Linked DNA regions of Homo sapiens. The protein of the gene in region 2 interacts with the protein of the main gene of each other region in a biochemical or structural test. Each region holds a gene or a part of one and is shown on either strand. Other genes may lie near its edges. The genes, in order: COIL, NOLC1 and ING4.

Evidence for each region.
Region 1: the proteins of NOLC1 (region 2) and COIL form a complex in vitro, tested with the Homo sapiens proteins (one study listed by BioGRID).
Region 3: the proteins of NOLC1 (region 2) and ING4 form a complex in vitro, tested with the Homo sapiens proteins (one study listed by BioGRID).

The regions. Positions count from the first base shown.
Region 1 is NC_000017.11:56,937,699-56,944,423, forward strand, and holds the end of COIL (coilin), read right to left. Parts: intron 4,426-6,725; coding exon 4,337-4,425; intron 1,457-4,336; coding exon 1,373-1,456; 3' UTR 501-1,372; downstream 1-500. UniProt on the Homo sapiens protein: Component of nuclear coiled bodies, also known as Cajal bodies or CBs, which are involved in the modification and assembly of nucleoplasmic snRNPs.
Region 2 is NC_000010.11:102,155,187-102,162,559, reverse strand, and holds part of NOLC1 (nucleolar and coiled-body phosphoprotein 1), read right to left. Parts: intron 5,542-7,373; coding exon 5,486-5,541; intron 5,375-5,485; coding exon of another isoform or gene 5,372-5,374; coding exon 5,232-5,371; intron 5,130-5,231; coding exon 5,005-5,129; intron 4,512-5,004; coding exon 4,346-4,511; intron 3,368-4,345; coding exon 3,252-3,367; coding exon of another isoform or gene 3,222-3,251; intron 3,128-3,221; coding exon 2,992-3,127; intron 2,665-2,991; coding exon 2,536-2,664; intron 2,328-2,535; coding exon 2,217-2,327; intron 2,109-2,216; coding exon 1,467-2,108; intron 1,005-1,466; coding exon 898-1,004; intron 728-897; coding exon 635-727; intron 450-634; coding exon 291-449; 3' UTR 1-290. UniProt on the Homo sapiens protein: Nucleolar protein that acts as a regulator of RNA polymerase I by connecting RNA polymerase I with enzymes responsible for ribosomal processing and modification.
Region 3 is NC_000012.12:6,649,796-6,653,487, reverse strand, and holds the end of ING4 (inhibitor of growth protein 4), read left to right. Parts: intron 1-91; coding exon 92-258; intron 259-437; coding exon 438-552; intron 553-717; coding exon of another isoform or gene 718-720; coding exon 721-826; intron 827-1,069; coding exon 1,070-1,217; intron 1,218-2,102; coding exon 2,103-2,164; intron 2,165-2,253; coding exon 2,254-2,293; 3' UTR 2,294-3,187; downstream 3,188-3,692.

The DNA.
Region 1 (6,725 bases), on a different chromosome or scaffold from region 2:
TGGTCCCCCTAAATTGACTTCATAATCCTTCTTGGGGACTCTATTCATAGTCTGACAAACACAACAGAGGAAAGGAGTGACTCATAAACTGATAATAATCTGAGAAAAACACACCCTGAGGTCAAAATTTTCCTTTGGTCAATGTTCACTAGTTATCTTAATTTGTTTTCCAAACCCTGGAAGGCAACTGTGCTACACAGAACCCCAGTGCCAAGATCCCACCGTTCACATTACTCTCATCCTTTCGGGAGTAATACTTCTCATTACAAATCAATAAATGCACATTTTGAAACACATTCATGTCATGCAAAGTAAAACTGGCCAGCATCTCCACTGGCACAGTGGCTCCCAGATCAGATGAACTCCACTGAACCAAACTTTGCAACATCAGACTCATCAGTCAAAGCAAACCTTCTTATTACAGAAAATTGTAATCTCTCACGTTATTGTAAAATAAGACAATAATTTGCAATACTCAACATGATAACTCGGTAGAGATGTTTAGTTCAATATGATTTTATTTAAAAATGTGTACAGCTGAAGGAGGGATCTGATCTTTTGTTAAATGAAACCAATTTTCACGGTATATATTTGGCCATTTTAGCTTCGTAGTGAATAATAACAGAAAAGGAAGTTTCTGTTCAAGATCCTCACTCCAGCACACTCAGCCAGGTGCCTGGCAAGATGACACATTTCCTGGTCTGAAGCTCACAGCCAATCCTCTCACTGAAGTGAAACACCAATTCTCCAGGCATACACACACATACGCACATCTTATTTTCACTGCTCTACACAGGGACCTGAGAATCCTTAATTTTAAAGTTGGGAAAAACGTGAAAGGATTCCTTAACTCATTGTCTGCGACAAATCCAACTACCTGTTAACTCTTAACAATTGCAAGTATAAAATACTTGAAATTTACAAGATGCTCCATTTAATGGAACAACTCAAATGCTAAAAAATTAGGTCAAATAACATGCTTTAATATTTTTAAATGTTACTTAAAACTTATTGAGACAAGATACGCAGCACATTCTTGGTATTATAAACTCCTACTGACGACTGCTACTTGATGGCCAAAAACATTTAAAGAAAGAGAAGAAACCATACTGGTATACAACAATATCTGCAGGGAATGTCATGTTTTACATTTTGTTAACTGAAATTAAACCTGACAAAAAAACCAAAGATCTACAAAACCGACACCCATGTCATTTTAAATGATGAGGTAGATTGTTTCCTATGCAGTAAAGTGAAGATAACAAAAAAATCCATACAACTTCCAAATCCTCTTTAAAAAAAAAAAAAAGTTTGGGTTATAGTCACTTTCACAAACAAGACATTCATAAACTATAAGGTGGAGAGGTCATACTCAGGCAGGTTCTGTACTTGATGTGTTACTTGGAGATTCAATAATCAGTCTTGGGTCAATCAACTCTTTCCAAAATACAGTGATCTGAGGAAAAAGACAAAATACCCAGTTTAGGCACTTCATTTTGAGGTCATACCGGTTAATTCAGCCACGTAAATTTTCCGTCTGTGTAGAATGATTGAAGAACGGGAATAATTTGGGTTCCAATAAACTGAGTTCAATTGCAGTATAGTAACTCTTTAGGCCAGGCGCTGTGGCTCACACCTGTAATCCCAGCAATTTGGAAGGCCGAGGGGGAGAAATGCTTGAGCCCAGGAGTTCAAGATCAGCCTGGGAAACCTAGTGAGACCCCATCTCTATTATTTTTTTTAATTAAAAAACAAAACAAAAAAAAAGAGGCCAGGCATGGTAGCTCACGCCTATAATCCTAGCACTCTGGGAGGCCAAGGCAGTCGGATCATCTAAAGTCAGGAGTTCAAGACCAGCCTGGCCAACCTGTGTCTCTGCAAAAATACAAAAATTAGCCGGGCATGGTGACGCATGCCTGTAGTCCCAGCTACTCGGAAGGCTGAGTCAGGAGAATCGCTTGAACCCAGTAGGTGGAGGTTGCAGTGAGCGGAGATCGCGCCACTGCACTCCAGCCTGGGTGACAGAGTGAAACTCTGTGCTGGGAAAATAAATAAATAAATAAATAAATAACTCATTTACTTAGAATGAAGCTAAATTTTACATTAAACATATTTCATCTTTCTTTGATTAAGAGCAGGAGATGCAGGGGTTGCGGGAGGGAGTAGCTCCCCCAACCCCTGCATTTGATTTGCCCTGTGGACAGGTGGCCTGGAGACCTTCTGGCAACTAGACATGGTCCAGATGGGTATCATTAGGCTGCTGATGCCCTTTTGCGCCGCTCTGTAGTTCTTATCCTACACTACCTAAAAACAGGAACTATTTCACAGCCCACCAAGAGAAAAACTCTAAGGCTTGGTCCTATGAATGAATAATGAGGGCCATCTAGTGTCAAAAAAGGTAATTACAGGCTTTTTGTTTTTGAGATAGGGTATCACGTCTATAGTCCAGGCTGGAATGCAGTGGCATTCAGGACTCACTGCACCTTCCACCTCCTGGGCTCAAGCGATCCTCCTGCCTCGCCCCCACCACCCCCAAAGGTGGCTGGGACTACAGGCATGTGTCACCACTCCCGGTTAATTTTTGTATTTTTTTGTAGAGACGGGGTCTCGCCATGTTGCCCAGGCTGGTCTTGAACTCCTGGACTCAAGGGATCGGCCCGCCTCAGCCTCCCAAAGTGCTGTGATTACAGGCATGAGCCACGGTGCCCAGCCTAATTACAGGCTTTCTATTCTACTTCAAGTCTCTGTTTAGGGCATAGAGAGAAAAGCCTCCAAGGTTTAATTTTCCAATGCGGTTTCCAATTTCAACCAAAAAAAACTATTGCAAATAAAGAAATACAGGAGACCAGGCCAAATCTGCTGATCCTACCACAAACACTAAAAATGTGTTTCTGGAATAAATCCCTAAAAGTGTCATCTACCTTAAAGACAAGGTAAAACACAGTCTGGCTAGGGTTTCTACAAGTTCACACTTCAGAAAAAATATGTTTGCAATATTGAAACTTACAGAATAATATCTATAACATTTCAAGTATAAACACCTTAAAAGAGAGCATTTTCTTAAATCTAACTTCCATTTAATGCCACCATAACCTAATGAGCTAGCCACTGCCAGCAACTCTGGTAGGTCTGGCTGCTTAAAAAGGTATAAATCGGCCGGGCGCGGTGGCTCACACGTGTAATCCTAGCACTTTGGGAGGCCGAGGCGTGCAGATCACGAGGTCAGGAGATTGAGACCATCGTGGCCAACGCGGGGAAACCCTGTCTCTAGTTAAAAAAATACAAAAAATTAGCCAGGCGTGGTGGCAGGCGCCTGTAATCCCAGCTACTCGGGAGGCTGAGGCAAGAGAATGGTGTGAACCCGGGAGGCGGAGCTTGCAGTGAGCGGAGATCACGCCACTGCACTCCAGCCTGGGTGACAGAGCTAGACTCTGTCTCAAAAAAAAAAAAAAAAAAAAAAGGTATAAACCATATACTTCCCAAAATGGCAATTTAAGGATTTAAAGAAAGTCAGAGGATGAGATCATCATTTTATGTCACTCTTCAAACTGTTGTGCTATTATAAGTTGGAACTCTCGGGCCAGGCATGGTGGCTCACCCAGGCACGGTGGCCTGTAATCCAACACTTTGGGAGGCCTAAGTGGGCAGATCACTTGAGGTCAGCAGTTCAAGACCAGCCTGGCCAACATGGTAAAACCCCGTCTCTACCAAAAATATAAAAATTAGCTGGGTGAGGTGGCAAGCGCCTGTAATTCTAGCTACTCCAGAGGCTGAGGCATGAGAATCGCTCGAACCTGAGAGGTGGAGGTTGCAGTGAGCCAAGATCATGCCACTGCATTTCAGCCTGGGCAACACAGTGAGACTCTCTCAAAAAAACAAAAGTTGGAACTGTGGTAACACTTGGGGGATAGTGGTGACAGCAAGGGGACATAATAGAGGCTTCTGGGAGTGGGTGTTATGTTCTATTTCCTGATCTGGGTCTGGTTACATGGGTATGTTCATGTGAAAGTTGTTCAAGCCATGTAGTTATATGCACTTCTCTGAACGTGTATGCCAATAAAGTTTCTAAATATGCTACCCTTTCCTACTGGAATCCTTATATAGCTATAATTTTAAACAACTGTACACTCTTAAAGAAAAGTTTGTTATTTGTGCATCTTGTCACATAGGCTCTATGAGGGCCAAGATGGCGCCCTGATTTGGCACTGGTATTGCCACACCATAAGAAGGTCAGATTCCCCCCAGGGCCTGTAGTGCAATGTCACCTTCCAAACCACAGGTAATTGGTCAAGAGAGAACGAATGGCCAAGCAACGCAAGAAGAGAAGCACACCTACCTTGCTCTCCTGTGTCACAGCGTACTCCACTACCTCGGCTCCATTTTCATTGTGATAAACTAAATCAAATTTCCCAGGTTCTCTCAAGGCTGAAACAAGAAGATAGGGAGGAAAGAGAGTAAGTCATTTTTCAATAGTTAAAAATGTTCCTCTATGGGGAATTTATATCATTAAGAAAACAACCACAAACAAACTGTCAATTAATGTGAAGGCTGGGTATGTACAGGAAAGCACAGGGTGCTCAATACTGGGGGATCCTGAGAAAAACTCTGGACCAGGGGGACTTCTCAGCCATTTATCAGAGAAAATCTTTCCTTCATAAGCTTGATGAACTGTCATTAGTACTACCAGAATTGAATATGGCACCACAAGATAATCCCCAAAATTAATTAATTTATGTGTTTCAACAAGGGAAGGTAATATGAAATGCTGCTCTGTCCTTAGAAATCACATATGCTTCCTACTACTTGGTAACACAGGCAGTCCCCCTTTTTTTTTTAAGACAGAGTCCTGCTTTATCGCCCAGGCTGTAGTGTAGTGGCGCAATCTCGACTCACTACAACCTCTACCTCCTGGGTTCAAGTGATTCTTGTGCCTCAGCCTCCTGAGTAGCTGGGATTACAGGCATGCACCACTATGCCCAGCTAATTTTTGTATTTTTAGTTGAGACAGGGTTTCACCATGTTGGCCAGGTTGGTCTCAAACTTCTGGCCTCAAGTGATCTGCCCGCCTCGGCCTCCCAAAGCGCTGGGATTACAGGCGTGAGCCACCACACCCGGCCTCAGTCCTTGCTTTCTATGGTAAAATGGGATTGGAAAAATGACTGTGCAAGCTGAAACCACGCAAAACAATCTTAATAATCAATAGGAAAAATTATTATCGTCTTACGAGTTTTAAAAAATTTTGCCAAAACATTAAAAACCTTTACTACATAGGGAAATTAAAAAATAGTAAAATAAATATATTGTACTTATGAGTACACTGTAATTACATTAGGAACACTAAGAACTAACTTTCTTTTTCTCTTTCCTTCTACACGTTTTATTTCTTTGTAAGAAACTTATCAGGGGGAGTTTGAACAGTGCTTGTGTTCTTGCCCTGTAACTTACAATACAGAGCAAGCATCTTCTCTATGCTTTGTGCAACTGTTATACTCTTTTCTAAGTTTGAAACTGCTTTCTACATTTTATCCTTTGAACTTCTAATGTCGTGAAATAGCTCAAAGAATTTGTTTTTTACTTTGTAAAATCTTTGTTTTTGCTGGTGTCACTTTGGGGACATTTTCATCCTTTTTGCCACAACCACTTTCCTCATTTATGTCAATAAGTTCACCTCACTGGCAGTGTCAACATTCCTACAGTGAGCTATTTCTTCTACAGACTCTCCTTAAACTCAGTTTGGATGGCACTTTCAGCATTACCACTTTTGTTTCTTTGCTGTGCCTTTATCTTTGTGGGCCAATTCCCTACTTCGATTATACGTGTTGTAAAATGTCATGCAGGTTTATAAGTGAGAGACAAGGAGGCACCACAACTGCATGCTCTGCTCTGTATGTGAACTGAATAACAGATGCACAGTGACCAGTCACTGACGGACTCTGAAAGTACTGACTTGACTGGTAATGGATCATGACGCGTATCTGTTATTTATGTTATATAGTGATATGTGGACTAAAGAGCTAGCAGTACTTCATGCACTTACAGTTAACATATGCAATGTTGCTGGGGGACTAGTATTACTTAACTAAACCAGGGTAACTGAAATATATGTATATCAGAACCACCACATCAAGGACAAGTGACATTGCTATTAGAGAACAGATAAATCCATTTCTTTCTTTCTTTTTTGCTTTTGAGACAGGGTCTTGCTCACTCAGCCTGGAGTGCAGTGACGCAATCATGACTCACTGCAGCCTCGACCTCCTGGGCTCAAGTGATCCTCCCACCTCAGCCTCTCAAGTAGCGAGGACTACAAGCATGTACCACCACACTCAGCTATGTTTTGTTTTTTTTTTTTACGACAGAGTCTCACTATGCTGCCCAGGCTGGTCTTGAACTCCTGGGCTCAAGTGATCCTCCCACCTTCGCCCCCGAAGCCATTTCTTGATGCCCTAAAGAAGAAAAGTTCTAAGTGGATGTCATCACTATTAATCACCTGACAAGCACTGATCAGGCTGTATGCACAGAATTTGACAGTGGACAAACTTTTCTGTCCACCGTTCCTAAGAAAGGGGATTTCTATAAATGAAATCTCATCAGAAGAAAGGTTGGAAACCTGGCCAGGCACGGTGGCTCATGCCTGTAATCCCAGCACTTTGGGAGGCTGAGGTGGGAGGATCACGAGGTCAGGAGATCGAGACCGTCCTGGCTAACACAGTGAAACCCCATCT
Region 2 (7,373 bases):
GTATGAGGACTTTCACAGAAAAGGAAGGAGACAACAATGAAAATGAATTTTCTTAAAAAATAACATTCCCTTATTTTGTCCCTGCTACTCAACACTCAAAAACAAGTCTGTACAAAACTAGGAACACAGAAAAGGACCAGAGAGGATGTTACACTGTAAAGTCTTAGGACCTACTCTAAACTTCTGTCCTCATCAAGACCCTCACCTAGAGACCTGAGGGTTCCCAGGTCCACTGGAGAAAGTAAGTAGTCTCCGATCATCACCCTTGCTTCACCGAAGATGGCCTCAGGTCACTCGCTGTCAAACTTAATAGAATTGACCTGGACAGAGATTGAGCCTCCCCGGTAGCTGCCCCGCTTCTTCTTGGTTTTCTCATGCCGAAAGGACTTGCCTTTGGTGAACTTCAAAACCTGATTGGCTCGCTCTCCCCAGTCTCCGGCTGCACCTCGCTGGTAAGTAGAGAGGGAGATTAACACAGAGGAGGACCATGCTGGAGCCCTGTCACTTTATTCTTTCTACTCCCTGCTCAAGGAAACCTGAACCCAGAGAAGATTCCCACCAACCTGAACCAAGAATTGTCCTCTCTGACACTACCCATCCTCCCTCCCAAGAATGGCACAGATCTCTCTCTCACCTTGGCATCAAAGGAGTTGTCCGCAACTCGTGAATCCACCTCAATTTCCTCCTCCCTGACCCTTCGGAATGGGGATGATGCCCTTTTTTCTCCCTACAGAAGAATGAAGTAGGAAATTAAAGACAGAGTGGTCATGTAACAGTTCTCCTGAGTGATACACATGGGCACATGTACCAGGTCACGCCAGGCAGAGCTGTCAAGATGATCCTAGATTTTTCTACTTTTAAAGAGCTGGCTCCTGAGAAGAAAGTGAGACAACTTACTTTCTTCCTTTTTGGAAATGTGTTAGGGGTCTGAAGCTTTATCTTCTTGGCCTGAGGAGTCTCTGCCTCCTTGGCAGCCTCATTCTGCTTCCGCTTCTTTAATGAACCTACAAAACAAAAAGCCAGACTCAGGCCGAGTACAGTGGCTCACAACTGTAACCCCAGCATTTTGGGAGTCCAAGGTAGGAGGATCGCTTGAGCCCAGGAAATTCAGATCAGCCTGGGCAATATAGTGAGATTCTGTCTCTATAAAAAGTTAAAAAAATGAGCCAGACATGGTGGTGCATGCTTGTAGTCCCGGCTACTCAGGAGGCTGGGGTGGAAAGATCACCTGAGTCCATGAGGTTAAGGCTGCACAAGCCGTGATCATGCCATTGCACCCTGGTCTGGGTGACACAGTGAGACTCTAATAAAAAAAAAAAAAGGTAACCAGTTTCCTGTTCTTCCTCCCAGTTTCCACAACTGGAAGCCCAGTGGTGGGCCTCCTCTCACTACCCTACTCTCAAAGAGTATATCCCATCCTGATTTGGGGGGACAAAACCCAGAGGGCATGTTCATTGGGTACAGACCTGATTTGGAAACTACCACTGCCGCCTTTTTCTTTTCTTCTTCCTCCTCCTCACTGTTCTTAGCTGCTTTTCCATTCTGGGCAGTCAGTGCAGAGGTGCCATTGGCCTTGGGGGCTTGTGGTCTTGGAGAGCCCTTGCCCTTGAGCTTCTCTTCCTCTTCCTCACTGGAGTCATCAGAAGAAGAACTGTTGCTGCTCTCAGCCTTTCCTTTCTTTGCAGAGGCTGGCTTGGAAGGGGCTGCACCTCCTGCTACCTTCTGTGGCTTCTTCTTAACTGCAGACTTAGATGTCTTCTCTTCCTCCTCCTCACTGCTGGAGCTGTCTGAATCAGAGCTGCTGTCCCTACTACCCTGAGGAGCCTGCTTGGCAGGCAGAGATAGAGCTGCTTTGGCAGTCGCCTTGGGCTTAGTGGTGGCCACCATCTTCTTTGTCTTCTCCTCCTCACTGGAGCTGCTCTCTTCCTCACTGGAGCTGCTGTCAGCCTTTCTCGTCAGAAGCTTCTGGCCACCGCCCACAGGTTGCTTGGGGGCTGCAGCTGGCTTCACTGCAGGTGACTTGGTGGTGACAGCTGGCTTATTTGAAGAATTCTTGGTGGTACCAGCTGGCTTAGAAGGAGCTTCATCATCCTCAGAGCTGTCAGAGTCTAGACACAGAAGGGATGGAATCAACAGCTCCCCAAATTGGATTCAGGGGAGCCCTTAGCAGCTGCCTGAGAGCATCTCACTGAACTGAGGGCCTCCATATGCCTTACCTGAGCTGTCTGAAGAGCTCTCTGCTGCTTTCTTTGCTGGAGGTGGTTTAGTGGTTGCTTTAGAGACTACTGCCTTAGTTGGGGGTTTCTTCTCTTCTTCAGAACTTGAATCTGAGGAGAACCTGTAGCATTATGCTGGGTCCAGAGTCCCAACCCAACCAGGACAGCAATAAAAAGAATGCAAAGACACGCACAGAGCCTTAGCTCTGTCTTGCTTTAAGCAAAAAGCAACCGAAGGATGGAAGGCTTTCTCTCTCCCTTATTCCTCATCCCCTCCTCCAGACCCACGCTGAGGGGAGGCTGCATCCCTCTGACTCACCAGACTCATCACTGCTGTCTTCACTGCTTTCCACAGGCTGCTGCTTCTCCACAGCCTTCTTGGGAGGCTGGGTTCCCAGAGACTTCTTTGGTGGGGGAGCAGAAGGCGGGGGGACTGAACTGTAGGGACCTGTTTAAAAAGGATAGTGTGATGGTTTTAGGATATGTCTACAACTTTTTTTGATACTACTTTCTTGTAGAAATGAAGCTTAATTCCCCTTCACTTGAGTATGGGCCAGAATCAATGACTCAGTTCTAACAGAACATGGTGTCACCTCTGAGTCTAGGTTACACAAGGCACTGGAGATTTCTCCTTGCTTTCCTGGATCACTAGTGCTCGGAGAAGCTAGCTGTCATGTCATGAGGACGCTCATGCACCTCTATGGAGAGGTCCATGTGGTTACTGCAGCTGGGCCCTGACCACAGTCACACAGCTTCGCTCCCCATGTCCAGTCACCTGGTTTATTTTTCATGGGTTTTTTTTGCTCCTCTTCCTCGTCACTGGAGGAATCCTCACTGCTAGAACTCTTCCGGGTAGGGGTGGTAGCTGCTTTCACTGGGGCCTTGGCCACAACTTGCTTTTTAGGTACAGTCTGCATTAGAAAGAAAATTGATTACCACAGGAAAATGCTGACCCAACCAATCCTGCCAGGGAAGGAAGACACACACACATCACACCCTGGTCACCTCTGCCCTGACAGAAGTTATGGTCCAGACCTTCTTGGGGGTGGCTGCTGCCTTCTCCTCCTCTGAGTCATCACTGCTACTGCTGCTGCTGCTGCTACTGCTGCTACTGGCTGCTTTACCATTGGCTATTTTAGGTGCTGCTCGAGCTGGAATACCCAAGAAAAAGAAAGAGTAAGGAGTATTAGGGCAAGTCAGGACCATGAAAAACCTCCTTCCTATGAGCAGAGAACTTAGGAGTCCACCATTTTTTTTTTTTTTTTTTTTTTTTTTTTTGGAGACGGAGTCTGGCTCTGGCTCTGTTGCACAGGCTAGTGTGCAGTGGTTCAGGCAACTCTCCCGCCTCAGCCTCTGGAGTAGCTGGGATTACAGGTGCCCACCACCATGCCCAGCTAATTTTTATATTTTTAGTAGACACAGGGTTTCGCCATGTTGGCCAGGCTGGTCTTGAACTCCTGACCTCAAGCAATCCGCCCGCCTCAGCCTCCCAAAGTGCTGGGATTATAGGTGTGAGCCACTGTGCCTGGCCAGGAGTCCACCAATTCTTTCAACTTTAGAGCAGCCATCGAGGAGAATGCCAGCCATGGTTTACCACATCAAAGGATACCTTTCCTATCCCATGGCAGGAATAAAACTGTCTTCTTAGAAAAGATGACATAAATAATCTCAATACGCCCTCTAAAATCTTTCACTTCAACCTCCATTCAGAGAAATAACCTAACCCTCATCACAAGTTACAGAAAAAAAGAAAAATTCTCATTTGTCTCATAGAATGAACATACAAGAGTAAAAATGGCAGTGAAAAGCACAACAAATAGATATTTAAGTGATTACAGTGGAATGGGATGTGTGAAAACATAAAATGTCTATGAAATGTCACAAAATACCAAATGGATACCATTAAAAAAAATACACATTTTTTCTTGCTGCAATAACTTTCTCTATTTACTAGCTCCTATGAAATCTTGTTATTTATTAGTAAAACCTTTAAAATTAAAAGACCAGTAATCAACACCTCCAGTTCAACAAACAGTACCATTTCACCCCTGTGCCAAATCGGCAATTTTAACTCCAGTCCCCAGAGCAATCTGGTCCCCAGCCCAGCCTCTTGGGAACAGAAACAGTACCTGGTTTGGGAGGGGCTTTAGTCTGAGCTTTAACTGTCACAGGTGTTATCTTTGGCTTCTGGTTCTTTGGTGGCTCATCCTCGGAGCTTGAGTCAGAATCAGAATCAGAGCTCTTGGCCTTCTTAGGAGGAGCTTTGGCTGCCTTGGCTTGGGGCTTAACTCCCTTCTGTTAGAAAAGACACAAGGAGAGAAATCAGCAAAAGCTTCCGGGTACCCAAAGGGCATCCTAGGTTCCTTTTATTTTTAGGGGCCTAATGGAGCAGTAAGAGCAAAAGAAAGCTAAGGACAGGATACGGAAAGGGCAAAAAACAACAAAGTTCAGCCACTTGATACACTGGCCCTGTTCCTGCCTTATCCTGCCAAAGCTCCCAGGAAAACACTCTCTCTTATTCTTGGAGCCCTGAATAGTGTCCCAGAAGAACCCAAACTCCTCAAGCAGAATGGGTTTAATTTCCTCTAGATTCGGAGCCTGACCTCAACCTCACACATCCCTTCCAGACCTCATACTTTTATCAGCTCCCTGAAAATCCCCAGATTTTCTTCCTCATAATCACCTATTGTATTGCCGCCATCACCCCTTGGTTACAAGCTAGAGGCCAAGATTTTAGGTTTCTTCCTTTCTAATCCTTAAACCCCTTTTTCTTCCCAAAGCTGCAAACCTGGACAGGCTGTTTCTTTTGGTCCTCCTCATCATCATCATCACTGGACTCTTCACTGCTGCTACTCTCTGATGCTTTGGCTGCAGCCTTCCCAGGAGGCAGACCGACTCGCTTGGCAGGTACAGCTGAACAAACACACAGGTCCCAGTAAGAATCAGCCATGTGAAACAAGCAGGCTGTAAATTCTTTTCCTGGCACCACCAAGCCCACCTGCTACTCTGCCTTACCAGCCTTCTTTGCTGGAGGCCCTTGAACTTCCTCCTCCTCCTCGCTGCTGTCCTCACTGTCACTGGATGAGGCCTTCTTCTTAGCTTTCTTAGCCACTGGTCCATTTGCCTGTAACTTTCGCTCTGGGACCTTGGCAGACCTGCTGAGGTAGATTGGACCAATTTCTAGGGGACTGGAATCTTCCCAAACCAAGAAACACAGCCCAGCCTATCTTGGGGGAGAAAATAGCCAAAATGGAACAGGAAAGGCTTACTTGAGCCAGAAGCTATAGATGTCTAAGAGGGAAGAGGCATTGGCATCCTGCTGTGTCTGTAGAAGAAAAAGAGCTGGGTAAGGAAATTATTTTATCCTGGTTATGCTTTCATTAAATGTGGCCTGTTACATACATAATTACTAAATTTGGTATAAATGTTACATCTTCATAAAACTTTTGCTACGTGCATAAATCAGGAGAAAAATATTCTATTTGTGGATTTCCCAATTTCTGATGTAAAAAACGGGCTACTCCTATGTTTGCGGCACCATCTAACCATCTAACCCCCTGCCTGCCAATCTATATTGATCAAAGTCCTAAAACAAAACAAAACAAAAAATCAGCCAGTCACGGTGGCTCATGCTTGTAATCCCAGCACTTTGGGAGGCCGAGGCAGGCAGATCAAGAGGTCAGGAGTTCAAGACCAGCCTGGCCAACATGGTGAAACCCCATCTCTACTAAAACAAAAATTAGCCCAGCATGATGGCAGATGTCTGTAGTCCCAGCTACTTGGGAGGCTGAAGCAGGAGAATTGCTTGAACCTAGAAGGCTGAAGCAGGAGAATCACTTGAACCTAGGAGATCGCGCCACTGCACTCCAGCCTGAGCAACAAGAGCAAGACTCCATTTCAAAAAAAAAAAAAAATCACTTTTGACTGGGCACAGTGGCTTATGCCTGTTATCTCATGTTATCTCAGCACTTTGGGAAGCTGAGACAGGAGGATCACTGGATGCCAGGAGTTCAAGACCAGCCTAAGCAACATAGCAAGACCCCCATCTCTACCCCTCTGCCAAAAAAAAGGCTCTCTCTTTACTCTAGCAATGTACTATCTAAGAATGTAATCTTATCCATTACTTGAGGGTACAAACACTAATACAAGAAGGTTTTTCCTGCAATGTGGATTATAATACCAAATCATTAGAAATAAGCCTCCAGGCGGGATGCAGTGGCTCACGCCTATAATCCCAACACTCTGGGAGGCCAAGGCGGGCAGATCGCCTGAGGCCAGGAGTTCAAGACCAGCCTGGCCAACATGGAGAAACCCTGTCTCTTAGCCGGGTGTGGTGGCAGGCGCCTGTAATCCCAGGTACTCGGGAGGCTGAGGCAGAAGAATCGTTTGAACCCCAGAGGCGGAGGGTGCAGTAAGCTGAGATCGCGCCACTGCACTCCAGCCTGTGCGACAGACCAAGACTCTGTCTCAAAAAAAAAAAGAAAGAAACAAGACTAGTAAGTACTGTATTGAATGTAAAGAACTGCATTTAAGGGCCAGGCACGGTGGCTCAGGTCTGCTGTAATCCCAGCACTATGGGAGGTCGAGGTAGGCAGATCATGATGTCAGGAGTTTGAGACCAGCCTGGCCAACATGGTGAAACCCCATTTCTACCAGAAACACAAAAAATTAACTGGGCATGGTGGTGCACACCTGTAATCCCAGCTACTCAGGAGGCTGAGGCAGGAGAATCGCTTTAACCCAGGAGGCTGAGGTTGCAGTGAGCCAGTATCACACCATTGTACTCCAGCCTGGGCGACAGAGTAAGTCTCAAAAAAAAAAAAAAATGCATTCAGGCCGGGCGCAGGTACGCTAACACTTTGGCAGGCCAAGGCAGGAGGATCACTTAAGGACAGGAGTTCAAGACCAGCCTGGGCAAGACAGTGAGACCTCCATCTCTCTCTCTCTCTCTTTTTTTTTTTTTGAAATGGAATTTCGCTCTTGGTCGCCCAGGTTGGATTGCAATGGCACTGCGGTTGCTTGGCCTGTGGTGGCTAAACGCCTGTAATCCCAACACTTTGTGAGGCTGAGGCGGGTGGATCATCTGAGATCGGGAGTTCGAGACCAGCCTGACCAACATGGAGAAACCCCGTCTCTACTAAAAATACAAAATTAGCT
Region 3 (3,692 bases), on a different chromosome or scaffold from region 2:
CAATGGAAAAGGTCCAAAGAACAAAAGGAAGAAATGTGTTTCACCTAGCCACTCAGGGGCCATTGTGACCAGGCCTCTGTCTCTGTTGTAGACCTGAAGGCTGAAATTGACAAGTTGGCCACTGAGTATATGAGTAGTGCCCGCAGCCTGAGCTCCGAGGAAAAATTGGCCCTTCTCAAACAGATCCAGGAAGCCTATGGCAAGTGCAAGGAATTTGGTGACGACAAGGTGCAGCTTGCCATGCAGACCTATGAGATGGTATGGCCCTGTTCATGGCTCCCCACCTACTTCCCATCTAATCCTCAGGGTCTTAGACCCCTCCTTCAACTGTGTTGGGATCTGTTTGGGGTCTGTGAGATCCATAAACTCTGCCTTAACCTATTTTCTTTAATTGGAGATAGTTTTGTACCTCTCCTTTCTCCTTCCTTTCCACCCAGGTGGACAAACACATTCGGCGGCTGGACACAGACCTGGCCCGTTTTGAGGCTGATCTCAAGGAGAAACAGATTGAGTCAAGTGACTATGACAGCTCTTCCAGCAAAGGCAAAAAGAGTGAGGAGGGGGCGGGGCTGTGAGAGGTGGGGCGAGGACTGAAAGGGAGAAGAAGTCAGCTCTTCATCTGGTGGGAAGTTTGGCACCAGGTTGGAAAGGGGGAGAGAAGAGGACTTAACCCATCTTTCTGTCTCCCTGCCTTCTGGCTTTCTCCCTCTTCCCTAGAAGGCCGGACTCAAAAGGAGAAGAAAGCTGCTCGTGCTCGTTCCAAAGGGAAAAACTCGGATGAAGAAGCCCCCAAGACTGCCCAGAAGAAGTTAAAGCTCGTGCGCACGTGAGTGATTCAGGGAGCCCTTTGCCGGATGACATCCTCTTCTCTCCCGGTGCCCCACTCCCAGCCTGCACCGCCCCCTGCCGCTTTCTATATGTCTGCGCCAAGAACTCTTCTTATCATTTTGGTATCTGCTGGAGAAGCCACAAATCATTTGCCCTACCAGGATCTCCTGCCACCTCTGAAAGCCTCAGGCTTTAGCTTCCCTTCCTGTAGATGACACTTTCTCTTCCTCTTGGCATGCAGAAGTCCTGAGTATGGGATGCCCTCAGTGACCTTTGGCAGTGTCCACCCCTCTGATGTGTTGGATATGCCTGTGGATCCCAACGAACCCACCTATTGCCTTTGTCACCAGGTCTCCTATGGAGAGATGATTGGCTGTGACAACCCTGATGTGAGAAACATTTTGCCTTAGGATGGGGGGTTGTGAGGGGCATGAAGGGAGTGGGTACAAGAGGGAAAATCCCACAGTTGAGTACTGGGACTTCAGAATAGAAGAAAGATGGGCTGGACGTAGTAGCTCTTGCCTGAAATCCCAGCACTTTGGGAGGCTGAGGCGGGCAGATCACGTGAGGTCAGGAGTTTGAGACCAGCCTGGCCAACATAGTGTAACCCCTTCTCTACTAAAAATACAAAAATTAGCTGAGCATAGTGGCACACGACTGTCATCCCAGCTACTCGGGAGGCTGAGGCGAGAGGCAGGAGAATTGCTTGAACCTAGGAGGCAGAGGTTGCAGTGAGCTGAGATCACGCCACCACACTCTAACCTGGGCGACAAGAGCAAGACTCTGTCTCAAAAAAAAAAAAAAAAAAAAAGCCTGAAAGCCTGGCGCTGTGGCTCACGCCTGTAATCCCAGCACTTTGGGAGGCCAAGGTGAGCAGATCACTTGAGATCAGGAGTTCGAGACTGGCCTGGCCAACACGGTGAAACCCCGTCTCCACTAAAAATACAAAAATTAGCCAGGCATGATAGCCTGTGCCTGTAATCTCAGCTGCTTGGGAGGCTGAGGCAGGAGAATAGCTTGAACTCGGGAGGCGGGGGTTGCAGTGAGCTGAGATCATGTCATTGCATTCCAGCCTGGGCAACAGAGTGAGACTCTGCCTCAAAAAGAAAAAAAGAATAGAAGGAAGATGGTGGGAACTGGTTGGCCTTGGGACTTCCAAGAATTCTCCAAAAGGATGGAGTAAAGGACAGGATGTTCCTAAGGAATCTGGAGGGGCTTTCTCTCCTTCCTCTGGCCCTTCCTGGCCCCTGACTACTTCTTTCTTCCTCTTCCAGTGTTCCATTGAGTGGTTCCATTTTGCCTGTGTGGGGCTGACAACCAAGCCTCGGGGGAAATGGTAAGTGGCAGGAGTTGGAGGGTCCCTAAGTTGAGTGGTCAAGGGCATTCTCCCTTTCACTCACTTTTCTCTCCCCTTCTCTGTTTCAGGTTTTGCCCACGCTGCTCCCAAGAACGGAAGAAGAAATAGATAAGGGCCTTGGATTCCAACACAGTTTCTTCCACATCCCCTGACTTGGGCTAGTGGGCAGAGGAATGCCTGTGCTGGGGCCAGGGGTTCAGGGAGGAGTGGATGGCACAGTGCTGTCATCCCTTCTCCTCCCCTCTCCCCACTCCCGGTGCTGAGGCTGCATCAGACCCTGGTAGGGAGGGGTGCCGCAGCCACTAACGGTATGTGCTCTCCTTCAGCCCTCTCCCTTCGGAGGGACGTGGTCTTGCCCACTGTCCTTTTGCCTCCATGCTGAGGTCGGTGCTGTATTTCAGAGGGAGGGTCCTTTTCATTCTCCTTGCTTTGTATTTAAGGACTGGGGCATAGCATGGGGGCAGTCCCCCAGACCTCTTCATTCCCCCTCCTGTGGTGAGGGCTAGGTGTGATCAACACTTTTCTTCTCCATTCCCTTCCTGCTTTTTTCATGGTGGGGGATCCACCAGGTCATCTAGGCTCTGGCCCTAGTTGAAGGGGCACCCCTTCCTCTGTGCCAAGAGGATTCATCCTGGGAGAGGGGGCAAGGTGGAATGCAGATAACTCACATGTAAAAGGAACTTGGGTAGGTAAATAAAAGCTATACATGTTGGCCTGCTGTGTTTATTGTAGAGACACTGTTTTAGTAAACATGCTGAGCATTCATTTTGCGTCCTCTGGGTTGGATGCAATGTGAGAGGATGGCATGCCAGAATTAGGACACGACATGAAACCAGAGTGGTGCCTCTGTCCGAGAACTTGTAAGTTCTCAACTTGGGAAAGACAGAGGTGCTGGAGGGTAGGCCTCAGACCAGGGGGTCTCCAAAACTTTGTAAATCATGCATCTTTTCTCCATAAAACATCTTTCACTTAATTTCCAATAAATGATGTATTTGTGCTATACATACGTACTGCTATACTATACATTAGCTTGACTTCTTTTTTTTTTTCCTTTGAGGCGAAGTCTCACTCTGTTGCCAGGCTGGAGTGCAGTGGCGTGATCTTGGCTCACTGCAGTCTCCGCCTCCGGGTTCAAGTGATTCTCCTGCCTCAGTCTTACAAGTAGCTGGGACTACAGGCACATGCTACCACGCCCAGCTAATTTTGTATTTTTAGTAGAGACAGGGTTTCACCGTGTTGGCCAGGATGGTCTCCATCTCTTGACCTCATGATCTGCCTGCCTTGGCCTCCCAAAGTGCTGGGATTACAGGCGTGAGCCACAGCACCCAAGCTGATTTCTTTTTTTCATTTTTTAAAATTTTTTTTAAAGTAGGCCAGGCCCGGTAGCTCACGCCTGTAATCCCAACACTTTGGGAGGCCAAGGGAGGTGGATCACCTGAGGTCAGGAGTTCAAGACTAGCCTGGCCAACATGGCGAAACCCGGTCTCGGCCAAAAATACAAAAATTA